Linked DNA regions of Homo sapiens: region 2 is linked to region 1. Evidence: fine-mapped expression QTL. A gene starts in region 1. The other region holds a variant in brackets. All regions are shown on one strand. Distances are from middle to middle. Region 1 holds the start of ANKRD55 (ankyrin repeat domain 55). Region 2 overlaps ANKRD55 (ankyrin repeat domain 55).

Region 1 (2,923 bases):
ATTTATTTTTGGAGAAACCCCCTGGGCTAAAATAATTCACCCACAAAGCCAGATGTAGCTTGAGGGGTAATAAACATGCTATGGCCTAGAGCAGGAAAAGGGAAAAAAGAATGAAGCAGTACATTTTCTTAATGAGGCTTTTTCAAACCACCATTTCATGTTGTAGCCAAAACAGATAAAATCACCAAAGGAACTTAGGATCTTGAAGAATATTCAGAGACTGTAGAAAGTGGTTTAAATAATAGATATTTAAGAAAAGATTCTAAAAAATATTTATTATGTTTATAAAATGGAAATTTCATGTTTATACTAAAAAAAGATTTACTATTACACATAAGTATTACACGAAGATGTATATAAACACATTGCATATGCAAAATGTATACACATAGACCACATGGCCAAATATGTGATATTATAAGGATAAGTTGATCTCACAGCAACATTTTGATGTGGAAAATTACCTCCACTCCAGAAATTATAAGTAAGGAAGATATACCCTGGCATTGCAAATAATAGCATAGGGATATGTCATTACACAACCTTGGATGAGATAACATATCAACCCGACATAAATACAGGCAACATCTATTCCTGAAAGGAATAAAAAAATGCTTACGAAGATACAGCAATGAGATACTGGGCTAATCGAATGACAAAAAAAATGTGATGTGTTCTTACATTGCTTACCCTAATTTTTAAAAAAGATTTGGAAAAAACAGAATAAAGATGACACTATCTGAAATAGTTGGTGTGCTTGAAATCCAGTTTTTAAAATTTGAAGGTAGGAATACTTCAACAAGATCATAAGCTTATACAACAGATCATAAGCTTATTTTTCTGTTTCAGATGCTTATCAAACTAGAAGTGAACATTTTGAACAGGTTTGTTTTCTAGGTGAAATCCTCTTTCCACATCCTACATAGCAAATACTCATGCACACCCACGCACATGAACACACACACACACACACACACACTTCTCTTTCTCTCCTTACAACTGTAAATCCATACCATGAGACTAAGGATGCTAACAACCAAAGAATGTGTTAAAGCAGCATTTTACCTCTTTGCTGATCAAACACAGAAGGGGTGCTGAAATCCATGGTAGCCTGTCTCATCATTTACCATCAGAATGGCAAAAAGCATCCAGGTCTCTAGAGAGGAGAAAACACCATCTCAAACCTTACTGTCAACATGACAGTCAGAGGCAGCATCGTTTGCCAAGACCTCTGTTTCAGGATTAAATGTGCATCAGAGCTGCAGGTTGTTGTCAAGGCAAGGTGATGAAAATAGGTAAATGCTATTCCTGTAAATACCTGCTAGGAAAAGAGTTACTCTATGGCCTCATTCATCAGCTGTACATGGGCATAATACACCCTCCACCCCCAAATCAATAAACACAATTACTCAAACTCCAAAAAGATAGTAAAATTGTATGGGCCACCTGCCTTGGATCTGGGCTGGAAAAACACAGCAGATCACGGAGCTTCAGCAGCTGGAATGTCGCTTTACACCAACAGAAATCTGAATGGGTGAGTGAGGATTCACAGGGCCAGACAGAGCATGTGCAAAGCTGCCAATGCAGTTCGCATTCGGCTGTGCTTTTGGCGGAGTGAGAACTGCATTTGGGTCATGTGAGCAGAGAGTGCCATCTCAATGGAATAGGATGTAAATATTGTAGCAGGAGGCTGCTGGCCATGTGCTGTGTGGAGTAATTATCCATGTTGGCAGTCTTCTTCACTCCCCTTTCAGCTCCGTTCTCCAATTGACAGGGAGGATGGGGAAAGGCGTCATTTGAAAGGTGACATTTCAAGGCTCGAGTGTCTGTGGTGATAAAATTAAAACAGTCTGCTGTCACAAGGGTGTTTATTGTAGCATTACATGTAGTAAAACCTGAAAAATCACCCGAATGTACCTCATTCAGGGAGCAGCTAAGTAAATGGTAGTAAATTCGTACTCTAGATTTAAAAATCTGACATAAATAAATCTGTGTATTTATCTGGTGACATGTCACTAATCTATTGTTAAATGAAATAAACAAGTTATATATTTCATTTGTTCGTGTTTTAATAAAACCGGAAACCACTCACTGTATACATTATTTTTATATATTCAGACGAACACTGAAAAAGATGTAGAAAGATACGTACTAAACTGCTAATATTGGTTCCCTCAGGCCACTGTGATTAGAGTAGGAGATTTCTAACTTGTTCTGTATCAATCTCTGTATTTTTGGCTTGTTAATAACCAGTATCTATTATCTTGTATTTGTAATAAAAATATGATATACTAAATTCAAACAAAGTTCTATATTCTAGGCACAACCAGATTTTTGGATAAGTCAAATAGCCATATAGTAGATGCTTGTTGAATCTAATAATAAACACCAGCTTCCTTTGCCCTTGGATAGGATGATTCTGAGGCATGGTGTTTTACTCCGTTTGCCATTTCCCTTTCAGGATTAAACTCCTTCAGGGTTAAACTCCACTGCCACCTGTGAGAATAGGTCTAATAACGTTCTTTTTATGGGCTGCTGTTCCCTCCCTGTATTACTTTCCCACGTTCCTACTGATATTTCCTGCACTTCTCAATAAGTTACTTGCATTGGAATCATTGTCTCAGGGTCTGCTTTTACGGAAACCCAAATTAAAATATTTCTCCACAAGAGGGTACATTTCATAAGGGCAGGGTCTTTGTCTACTCTTTCTTTGTCTGCTTTGTCCACTCCATGTCCTTACAGCCTAGCACAGAGAGGGGCACAAAGGAGGTGCTCAGTACATTTCAGTGCATGAGTGAAACTTCACTGAAGAACTTTCCTTGCTCAAGCTGACAACCTGCTCACTGACATTGTAACATTGGAACCCAATTAACCATCCTTCATGGGGTAAGAACTTTCTGACAAGAACTTCTGTAGTCCTTGA
Region 2 (2,923 bases), 79 kb before region 1:
TAAGCAGTGTGGTTAATGAAACAGGAAAAACAAACAGATCATTGGAACAGAACAAAGAGTTCAAAAATGAAACCATATATTAAAAAAAATCTGGTAACAAACAAAAACATAATTTAACATAACATAATCCAGTTCTTGGGGTAGAGAAGGCCTTCTTTAAAAAGACATCAAAAGAAAAAGCAGAAACAGACAAGAATGATCATTTTAATTATATCAGATTTTTACATTTCTGAATAAGAAAAGGTACTATGAACTATTTCAAAATAGCCAACAGCCTACGAAAAAGTATTTACAACCCAACAGCAAAGCATTAATATTCAGCATATAAACTAAACTCCTATAGATCAATAAGAAAATGACAACCCAATGGATCAATCGACAAAGAATGTAAACAGGCAAGTCACAAAAGAAGATATAATAAAGACCATTATGTCTATGAAATGATGTTCATCTCATTAATCAGGGAAAATGCAAATAACAAGAAAATCCAGCAACAACTGGGAAAAAACCAGTACTTCCACTAAAAACAACAACAACAACAACAACAACAACGACACGCAGCTATTTTGGGGGAATAATTAGGCAGTGTGTATTAAAAATAAAAACATACACTCTCTACTACCCAGCAATTATTCTTTTAAGAGAAATGCTTGCACAGAGTATGCAAAGAGGCTTGTACAAGAAACACTCTTTAGACTGGTGTTTATGATGGTGAAAAATTGAGACAACCTAAATATCCATTCATAGGGGAATGGCAAAATAAATGGGGGTATTTTGATATTATGTAACATGATGAAGCCATTAAAAGGAATGAGCCACAGGCTGGGTGCCGTGGCTCACGCCTGTAATCCCAGCACTTTGGGAGGCCGAGGCAGGTGGATCACGAGGTCAGGAGTTCGAGACCAGCCTGGCCAACATGGTGAAACCCTGTCTCTACTAATATACAAAAATTAGCTGGGCGTGGTGGTGGGTGCCTGTAATCCCAGCTACTCGGGAGGCTGAGGCAGGAGAATGGTGTGAACCCGGGAGGTGGAGGTTGCAGTGAGCCGAGATCGCACCATTGTACTCCGGCCTGGACAGGGCAAGACTCCATCTCGAAAAAAACAAAACAACAACAACAAAAAAGGAATGAGCCAGATCTATATGTATCAAAAATTCTAAGACAAATGCTTGAGTTGAAAAAACTAAGTTAGGCCGGGTGTGGTGGCTCACACCTGTAATCCCAGCACTTTGGGAGGCTGAGGCGGGTGGGTCACGAGGTCAGGAGATTGAGACCACCCTGGCTAACACAGTGAAACCCCGTCTCTACTAAAAATACAAAAAAAATTAGCTGGGCGTGGTGACGGGTGCCTGTAGTCCCAGCTACTTCGGAGGCTGAGGCAGAACCCAGGAGGTGGAGCTTGCAGTGAGCCAAGATCGCACCACTGCACTCCAGCCTGGGCAACAGAGTAAGACTCTGTCTCAAAAAAAAAAAAAAAAAAAAAAAAAGTTG[C/T]AGAACACATAGAGTGGTACCTTTTTTTAAACAATGAATTTAACTGTTACTCCCCGCTACCCCTCATACAATGGAGGCTACATCATGCTTGGAGCTTGTTGAAAAAAGACAGACGAGAGAAGATTACTTGTTCAAAACATTGAGCAGCCAAATACAGGAACTCCACCAAAGTAATGAATGAAAAAGAAAGCCTGGGCTGTGTTCTTTCCATTTCAGAATTGTATTTATTTCTCAATGGCAAGAGCTTTTGCTGTTATAAATTTATCGTGATTGGCTCTCACTAGCAATGACCAATAACTAAATAAAATAAATAATTGGCAAAAACGGAATTACAGCAGAAGATTTAGTTTTAAAGTTTTTTTTTTTTTTTTTTGAGACAGAGTCTTGCTCTGTTGCCTAGGCTGGAGTGCAGTCACGCCATCTCAGATCACTGCAACCTCCATCTCCCAAGTTCAAGCAATTCCACCGCCTGCCTCAGCCTCTGGAGTAGCTGGGGCTACAGGCATGAGCCACTACAGCCGGCTAATTTTCATATTTTTAGTAGAGACGGGGTTTGGCCATGTTGGCCAGGCTGGTCTTGAACTCCTGGCCTCAAGTGATTCACCCACCTCAGTCTCCCAAAGTGCTGGGATTACAGGCGTGAGCCGTGGAGCCGGGCCTCAAAGATCTTAACTGGCTTCATTTGCAATTCTAGAACTGGGCTTCATTCCAAAATGTTCTGGCCAGGCATGGTGGTGCACGCCTATAATCCCAGCACTTTGGGAGGCTGAGGCGGGAGGATCACTTGAATCCAGGAGTTCTAGACCAGTCTGGGCAACATAGGAAGACCCCTGTCTCTACCAAAAACAAAAAATGAGCTGGGTATGGTTGTGCATGCCTGTGGTGCAGGGTTTCTGTGGTCCCATCTACTCTGGAGGCTGAGGCAGTAGGCTGCAGTGGGCTGTGATCGTGTCACTGCACTCCAGTCTGAGTGACAGAGTGAGACTGTCTTAAAAAAAAAAAAAAAAGTTTTCCAACGAGCCCAGCAGAGGAGGTTGGTTTTGTAGACAGAGAAGGACTGAAAAAAGCAGAAGCAAAGAACAAAAAGCAGATTGGTTATTTCAAAGTTACTTTCCTTGAAAGATGAAAGATGAGAACAGGGAAACAGAACAACAGAGAAAAAACTGATTGCTTAACATCAGGTTACTTTAGGTTACTTTTTGTTGTCAGGATTAAAAGCAGAGGAAATTTCATTATTATGCTAAGTAAAACTAGCCTGTTTGGGAAATTTGGGTGTTATCTCTCTCCTGATTTCTCAGAAGGTCAGATAACAACTCGGTCTCAGTTTGGTAACTTGGAATTTAAGTATGAGGGACTCCATTTTGATATTTGGCCTGGTCTGTTGACCTAGTACAGGAGCTCAGTCAAAAACAAAATTATGAGTGCCTCAGA

What was found. PIP is the estimated chance that this variant, and not a neighbour inherited with it, causes the effect.
Region 2: its variant is the best candidate, but not a certain one, in a credible set for the expression of ANKRD55 in whole blood (TOPMed, PIP 0.63).

What each region holds. Positions count from the first base shown.
Region 1 is chr5:56,231,791-56,234,713 of GRCh38, forward strand. It overlaps ANKRD55 (ankyrin repeat domain 55), which reads right to left and starts at 1,540. Exons shown (of 12, transcript NM_024669.3): 1 at 1,451-1,540; 2 at 1,066-1,156. The coding sequence starts at 1,123.
Region 2 is chr5:56,152,738-56,155,660 of GRCh38, forward strand. All of the region lies in intron 6 of ANKRD55 (ankyrin repeat domain 55), which reads right to left. Among named protein-coding and RNA genes, the nearest start is that of ANKRD55, 79 kb to the right of the region's middle. The variant C/T (reference allele first, on the strand shown) is at 1,493.